Homo sapiens: one gene and its partner. The protein of the gene in region 1 interacts with the protein of each later gene in a pairwise test. Each region holds a gene or a part of one and is shown on either strand. Other genes may lie near its edges. The genes, in order: SERF2 and BOLL.

The links.
Region 2: the proteins of SERF2 (region 1) and BOLL interact in a two-hybrid assay, tested with the Homo sapiens proteins (2 studies listed by BioGRID and IntAct).

Annotation. Positions count from the first base shown.
Region 1 is NC_000015.10:43,790,535-43,794,451, forward strand, and holds the start of SERF2 (small EDRK-rich factor 2), read left to right. Parts: upstream 1-1,785; 5' UTR 1,786-1,842; coding exon 1,843-1,849; exon of another isoform or gene 1,850-2,077; intron 2,078-2,440; coding exon 2,441-2,549; intron 2,550-3,041; coding exon of another isoform or gene 3,042-3,175; coding exon 3,176-3,239; coding exon of another isoform or gene 3,240-3,438; 3' UTR 3,439-3,917. UniProt on the Homo sapiens protein: Positive regulator of amyloid protein aggregation and proteotoxicity. Induces conformational changes in amyloid proteins, such as HTT, driving them into compact formations preceding the formation of aggregates.
Region 2 is NC_000002.12:197,778,510-197,782,426, forward strand, and holds part of BOLL (protein boule-like), read right to left. Parts: intron 3,357-3,917; coding exon of another isoform or gene 3,342-3,356; coding exon 3,213-3,341; intron 558-3,212; coding exon 466-557; intron 1-465. UniProt on the Homo sapiens protein: Probable RNA-binding protein, which may be required during spermatogenesis. May act by binding to the 3'-UTR of mRNAs and regulating their translation.

The DNA of each region.
Region 1 (3,917 bases):
GGGCGGATCACCTGAGGTCAGGAGTTCCAGACCAGCCTAGCCAACATGATGGAATCCCATCTCCAGAAAAACAAAAATACAAAAATTAGCCGGGCATGATGGCGGGTGCCTGTAATCGCAGCTACTTGGGAGGCTGAGGTGGGAGAATAGCTTGAACACAGGAAGCAGAGGTTGCAGTGAGCCGAGATCACGCCAATGCACTCCAGCTTGGGTGTCTCTTATTAACTGTTTATTTATTATTTATTTTGAGATGGAGTCTGGCTCTGTCGCCCAGGCTGGAGGGCAGTGGCGTGATCTCGGCTCACTGCAAGCTGCTGCTCCTGGGTTCACACGGTTCTCCGGCCTCAGCCTCTCAAGTAGCTGGGACTACAGGCGCCTGCCACCACACCCAGCTATTTTTTTTTTTTGTATTTTTAGTAGAGACGGGGTTTTACCGTGTTAGCCAGGATGGTCTCGATGTCCTGACCTCGTGATCCACCCGCCTCTGCCTCCCAAAGTGCTGGGATTACAGGCGTGAGCCACCTTGCCCAGCCTTTCTTATTAACTCTTTTTTTTTTGAGATGCAGTCTCGCTCTGTCGCCCAGGCTAGAGTGCAGTGGTGCGATCTCGGCTCACTGCAAGCTCCATCTACCGGGTTCACGCCATTCTCCTGCCTCAGCCTCCTGAGTAGCTGGGACTACAGGCGCCCGCCACCACGCCCGGCTAATTCTTATTAACTTTTTTTTTAGACGGGATCTCGCACTGTCGCCTGGGCTGGAGTGCAATGGCGCGATCTCGGCTCACTGCAACTTCCGCCTCCCGGGTTCAAGCGATTCTCCTGCCTCAGCCTCCCAAGTAGCTGGAATTACAGGCGCGCCACCACGCCCGGCTAATTTTTTGTATTTTTAGGGTTTTCACCATTGTTGGTCAGGCTGCTGGTCTCGAACTCCTGACCTTCTGATCTGCCCACCTCAGCCTCCCAAAGTGCTGGGATTACAGGCGTGAGCCACCACGCCCGGCCCTCCAGGGTCTTAATACAAAACCGGGTGGCTGGTGGCGATGGTACAGTAAGAAAAGCTCCAGAGGGGAAAAGCGAATATGTGAATTATCTAATCTCAGCCACTGATCCAACTCCATAGTCTGTGACTTTTGGAGTCCTCCAATACTTCCAAGCTGCATGTTCACATTTAAAGTTTCTGGGGGAAAACGAACAGGGTAGAGTTTTAGGAAATACCAGATGTTGCTGCGATTTTCTACAGTGAAGGGGCGTGGAAGGGGACAATGGGAGTAGAAGCGGGTTTCTGAAGTTGTGTTTGTACTTGATTTTAAGCGAGCTGTGAACAACTCGTGTCCAAATAAGTGGCTGAGAGGTGGTCCTAAGTAAGCACAAGTTTAGTAGTAGAGTACTCGTAACACAGAACTGGCTGAAACCCCGCCCTCTTGTCTACGGGCGTTCTTTCAGGGCGACTTTGTCAGTACCCCAAACTGTCCCCGCATGAGGTCACTCTGCACGGTCACGTGCTCGAGCCCGCGGGAGCGCCACATCGCCAGCCGCACCCCTCCACCCCCAACCTGCCCACGTGACCCGGCCTAGTTTCTCCAGGCCCGTCCCTACGTCTCACTCGGGAAGCCCCGCCCCACGCTGAGCGCTCCGCCTGCGACCCTCCGCCACTTACCCACCCCGGCTCAAGCACGACCCGTGGATCCACGTGCTTTTTCTTGTCCAATGGGAGCCGGCTCCCGGGCGCGAAGGGGCGGGGAGGAAAGGAACGACTGTGCTACGTTGCCAGAAGGGGCGGGACCTGCAACGTCCGACAGAACGAGGGGACGTAACGGAGGCAGGTTGGAGCCGCTGCCGTCGCCATGACCCGTGAGCACCGAGCCCCCTTCTCCTTGCCCTTTTCTTTCCGTTCACCCTAAACACCACCGGCGAGGCGCCGGCTTTGACCTTCCGTAGCTTCCCTAGCAAGGCGTTTCTCTGGGCGCGCTCTGTGGCCACCCTCACACTCGGTGCCCGGAAATCGAGCCCTTTGCCCACGGCTACTTCACGGGACCACCCTCCCGGGTTAGGCATAGGCCCTCCCGGATCTTCCGCGGTGTAAGGAGAAGGCCAGCGCCCCTGTGATAGGCCCAGAGCCCCCACTCCACAAGCCAGCCCATCCCCCACGGAGACCCAAACCGTCCACACACACCTTGCCAGCTGTTTGGGCCCCACGCCGCCCCAAAACACGCCTCCAGCTGGCCCCTTGGGACCTCCCTTCTCTAGTCCGTATTTTGACCTGGCCCGTGGCAGATTCGCCACTCCCCCCTACCCCAAGCAGCCTGGGCCTCGATGGGCCGTTGTCGGGGCCCGGAGATTGAAGTGGTGTTGGATCCTGCTGCTGGCCGCGCTGGGGTAGAAGGGTCGCCGGTGTGTGGGCAGAGCGGCCCCCGCGTCTCACCTTTAATTTTCTTTCCTTAGGCGGTAACCAGCGTGAGCTCGCCCGCCAGAAGAATATGAAAAAGCAGAGCGACTCGGTTAAGGGAAAGCGCCGAGATGACGGGCTTTCTGCTGCCGCCCGCAAGCAGAGGTAGCCCCAGGGAGGGGAGGGAAAGGGACGGTGGAGACCTGGGTTAGACCAAGGGTTATAGAAGGAAAGAGAGCTACCTCAGGGCTTGAATGTGGACTAGTCGTGAGGAGCAGAGTGCATTGCTTCCTCTAGGGTTTTATTTCCTCCCCACCCTCCAAATTGTTAGCTCACAGCCTTACAGGAAAGGACGGGGGCGGGCGCCTGCCCTCAGTCTGATTTCTGAGCGTCCCTGGGTCTGACCTTAAGGGCAAGGGCAGGGAGCTTCACATTTCAAATACAGTTGTGGTTACGGCAGCCCAGTACTTTTGGCCCTCCTTGCTGTTCGGTTCTCCTCCCTTCTCCCAACCTCCTCACTGGTGTTGCTGGGTGTGGTCCTCAATACAGAATAGAGACCCTTGGGCCTGTGTCACCAGACTTCTGACCCCTTGGGCAACAGCCAGATGGAGACTGGTCGCCTTTTGAGCCTCAGCTCTCTTCCTCTTGTTCTCCTAGGGTGGGAGTACAGCAGCCAAACGCTGAACTTAGTCCCATCCACTTCCATCTTATCCTTTGTGCCCTTCATCCCCCTGCATCTTGTCCTTTTTGCCCTCTGGTACCTCCCAGTGCCCCATCATCTCTACCCCCAGGGACTCGGAGATCATGCAGCAGAAGCAGAAAAAGGCAAACGAGAAGAAGGAGGAACCCAAGTAGCTTTGTGGCTTCGTGTCCAACCCTCTTGCCCTTCGCCTGTGTGCCTGGAGCCAGTCCCACCACGCTCGCGTTTCCTCCTGTAGTGCTCACAGGTCCCAGCACCGATGGCATTCCCTTTGCCCTGAGTCTGCAGCGGGTCCCTTTTGTGCTTCCTTCCCCTCAGGTAGCCTCTCTCCCCCTGGGCCACTCCCGGGGGTGAGGGGGTTACCCCTTCCCAGTGTTTTTTATTCCTGTGGGGCTCACCCCAAAGTATTAAAAGTAGCTTTGTAATTCCTTGAGCGCCTGGTTTGACTGGGGACTTGGGGGGATGGGGTTGGAAGAATGACTGCCCTTTCCCACCAAAAAAGGGAGAACTCTTTAGATTCAGATTGTGGGTATGTAGACTTAATAAGTGAAACATCACAGAAGAAGCCTTTATTATACAATGACAACCAAACAAGTACTCCGGATATGCAGTAGAGGAATCCTCTAAGAACCATAGAGACTTCTTTTCTGTGATTTTTGTTCCCCACCCTTGAACACCATCTCTAGGATGGAGTTGGCCTAAGAGTGAATGCTGCAAGATCTGTGTTTATGCCTCTTTTCCTCATTCTTCCTCAGTTTGTTCGTCTGCTTGAAAGTTGGCCAAAAAATCCTGCTGCTCACCGACTTCCCGTGGTCAGCTGCTGTCAAGCGTTC
Region 2 (3,917 bases), on another chromosome or scaffold:
TAAAAATCATTCTCACTAGAATTATATTTCTCATACTGGTCCCCTAATTAGGTCTCTGAGGCACAACCTACAGACATTTCTTGGTGTCAGCTGTTTTCAAATAAAGCTCTCTATGGCCTAAAGCAGGGATACAATTCCAAAAGAATCTGATTCCTTTTGCTTCTCATTCCTCAGCTAATGTACATCTGCTACTTACATTAAGTGCTTGCTGCCTACCACTGAATGGTCCCTCCACCCATGCAAGAATAACTTCTCAACAAATTAAGAAATATTACAGTGTCTCCTCCCTCCAAAATACACACACACACACACACACACACACAAGGAAATCAAAAGGTAGGAGGAAAGAAGAGGGCATGATGGTCTCTGCTGGAAAATGGAACCAAAGTAAACTGGCGTACAAAACCTAGTCATCCAATGAAAATAGAGTTGCTAATTCCATAGACAATCTATAGTGATACTAACCCTTTGGATACTCCAGCTCTGTCATTTACAATCTTCACTTCTTTCACAGACCCATACTGGGAAAAAAATTTTCTTAAATCACTTTCGTTTGTCTAATGGCATAAAAAGAAAACGTTAAAAAGCATTTTTAGTTGATAAAAGATGAATAATTCTCATGCTTGCTCTGGAGACAGAAAAAGTTATAGATAAGATGCATGAAAAATGCCTCTCATCATCAAAACAGTGCATAAACCACTAGGTGATTAAAATCAAGGTAAATATCTTGCTTTATGCAATAGCTATGTTGTTAAATTACCATATGCCAATAAAAATGTAAGCTGAATTATTTTAAAACTACAAAACTCACTATTTAAAGAAATCTTTAAATGATTCTTGTTCTCTAGCTGGCCAGTTTTTAAAAAGCCAATTTGGATTAGGAATGCTATTTCCATAGTAAGGGTACAATACTATTTTGGCTCTTGTGGCTCAGAGACAGTCATGGCAGTGGAACTAGGTTGTGTTGGCCTACACCAGTCATTCTATTTTAATCAGTAGTCTCAGGAACTCCTTTCCTAAGTCAGTTTTAGGAAAGGAATGTATTTCCAAAAGTGCTTGAACTCAACTGTGAGAACAATGGAGTGACTATAAGATTTAAAGTTATTAGATTCCTTATCTGTACTCAATATACATTTCAGCTAAATTCAGACATTGTTTTGATAATAAAATAAAAATTGGAATCATAATTAGATTTAAAGCATACAAGGTGTCTACAAAGATGGTTTTGGCATGTCTGTTTTTTTAATTGAAATAGTCTGATAATAGACTCATATCACCTTTTCTCAGAATACTGACACTAAATTCATTGCAATTTCATTTCCTGGTTTAGCTGTAACTGTTTGTCTACAAGAGTAACTTTTCTCTAGAAAAAAATTTCTTTATATACACTGCAAAAAGACATGCCTTAGTGCAGAGCTATGCCTTTTGAGTTCAACTGCCACCTCACTACTTACATACACTATTGGTTTTTAGTTGGTAACATAAAGCCTGCTAAGCTGCATAATGACAAATACTGATTCAATCTAAGAAAAACTGAATGACTTTTATTTCAGTTAACAGAAAATGAAATCAATGCTAGAATAAGAATTGTTACTAGATATTTGAATACAAATTAATTCCAACTATTCTCTGGTAGAATAATCACTACCTCAATTTTGTAGCTCCACTTCTTTAGTGACAAAGAGACAGTCAAGAAAAGTAAGCATTAAGAGGGATAGTCTGTTTGCTTATAAAAATGAAAGGTTAAAAAGTCTGTGACTACTTGCTATTAAAGTAAATGATTTCCTTGCTGGCCTTTATCTGTGGTTTTGAAAAAGGTATAAGTATACAGGAGGAAGCCCTAGCAATTACCTTAAAGCTATGGCTGCATTATAACAACCGTCTCCAAAGTGCATGCTGTAGCTGATGGGCTTCAGTAACCTAAAATAACCTGGCCATACAAATGTTTATATTTATTGATAACTTATTTTTAAAAACATGCTAATCTATTGTAATATAAATGAATTCCCAAATTGAACATTTCTGCCAGCTATCAGTATTTTCCACAAAGAAAATCTTTTTAAAAATAAATATTTTATAAGAAATAATTTTTCTTACTTTATTTTTAGTGAAACAATCATATACTTGTTTAAGACTCATTGTTTTGGCAAATACACTAAGTGTAACATTTCTCTTGTGCAGGAAAAAAGAAATTCCACCCAAATTGTAACAGATTGGTTATATGGAAATAGTTATAAATGTCAAATATCACACCTAATGGCATAAGGAAGGTTTTTTTTTTGTTGAAAATGATAACTCTCCCTATAATTTCTAATATGTAAAATAGAAGCTTGGAAATCCTTCTATATATCCATTTGAAAGTAAGAGTATTCCACTTAAAATATCTATGCATGCCTTTCTTGTAGGTGTTTACTCTTACCTCCCCTATGTGGGCTGGGGGGCACTGCACATCATGTCATGAACTATGCTTTCTTGAAACAGTGGAATGGCTGATTACATGATATAAATATATTAGTTTTTAAAAAACTTTTATTTTAAGTTCGGGGTACACGTGCAGATTTGTTATAAACTCATCATTGGGGTTTGTTGTATAGATTATTTTGGCACCCAGGTACTAAGCCTAGTACCGAATAGTTATTTTTTTTTCTGCTTAAATATACTACTTTTAAGATGCTTTATTCTGACAAGGACACAGGACTTTTTTGGTGATCAAATCCTAAATTCTAACATAGAAAGTGCTTTGCAAAGAATAGATGCCTAGGAGGTTGCTCAGGAATCTGAGATAAGAGTTGGGGTAAAGAAATAGTATTTCATAAAAGTAAGTTTTTAAAAAATAGAGTCTCTTTTGAAAATTATAATAATCAATTATTTTGGCTATTGGAATATTAGGCAAGAAAGTATAATTAGTTCTGGTATGGAAGAGTATGGAGCTATGAGACAGAAAACTAGGCTTCTAGTCTCACTCTGTCACTATGTGGCTAGCAGCCCACAGCAAGTCAGTGAGGATCAATTTCTTTATATCTGACATTGAACAGTTTTTAATGCTTTATGTAACCTACATGCTGGTTGAAAAGATTCTTTATAATAAGATAATTCAAAATCTGTTAATCATTATGCAAATATGTTATTTTATAGTTGCACAAAGAAATAATTTCTGAGAAATAAAGACTTCTAATGAAAAAATACACTTTACTGCATGCATAAATAGGTACCTTAAAATCAATTCCTCCTACAAAGATGCGATTAGGGATCACTGTTCCATATCTTGGGGCACTTGTTGGGTTATTCAAAGGCACAGGTGACACAGGATTAGGGGATGGAGATAATGAATCTGTTTGCATCTGGTTTGATGTTTGCTGTAAAATAAAATTCTTTTACACTTTTTGCACTGGGTATAATGCAGTCTGCTTTTGATGCAGACCAAAAACATATATTTTTCAAAAAGAAGAGTCATTTAGGCAAAATATAGTATTCTAGGCTTTACTTTTAATATTATAAAAATTATAATTAGAGCTAAGAGCTTTTTAAGGCAACAGAACTAGGAAACACAGAATCTACTCCACTATAGAGATTTTAAATATTAAATATATTACTTAAAATGCTTATATTATTATCAAACCTATTACTTAATTATTAAGGGGAATATTAAACTCATGAACATGTTTGAGAAAGAGAAAACAGTCCCAGCCTGACACAATCAACTACACCCTGGTGTTGTTAGGAGTTGGCCTGGCACTCACAGCTAGGCTGTGGTGTTCTCTTGTTAACAGAACACCAACATCAGACAAAGTCACCCTGTGACTCTGATGGATCAAGATTAAAAACAAGACCACTCCATAATCATGTTTGAATGCTGACAAAAACAAAGGCATTGCCCAAACCACAAGAATAACCAAACAACCCTCCATTCTGGCTGA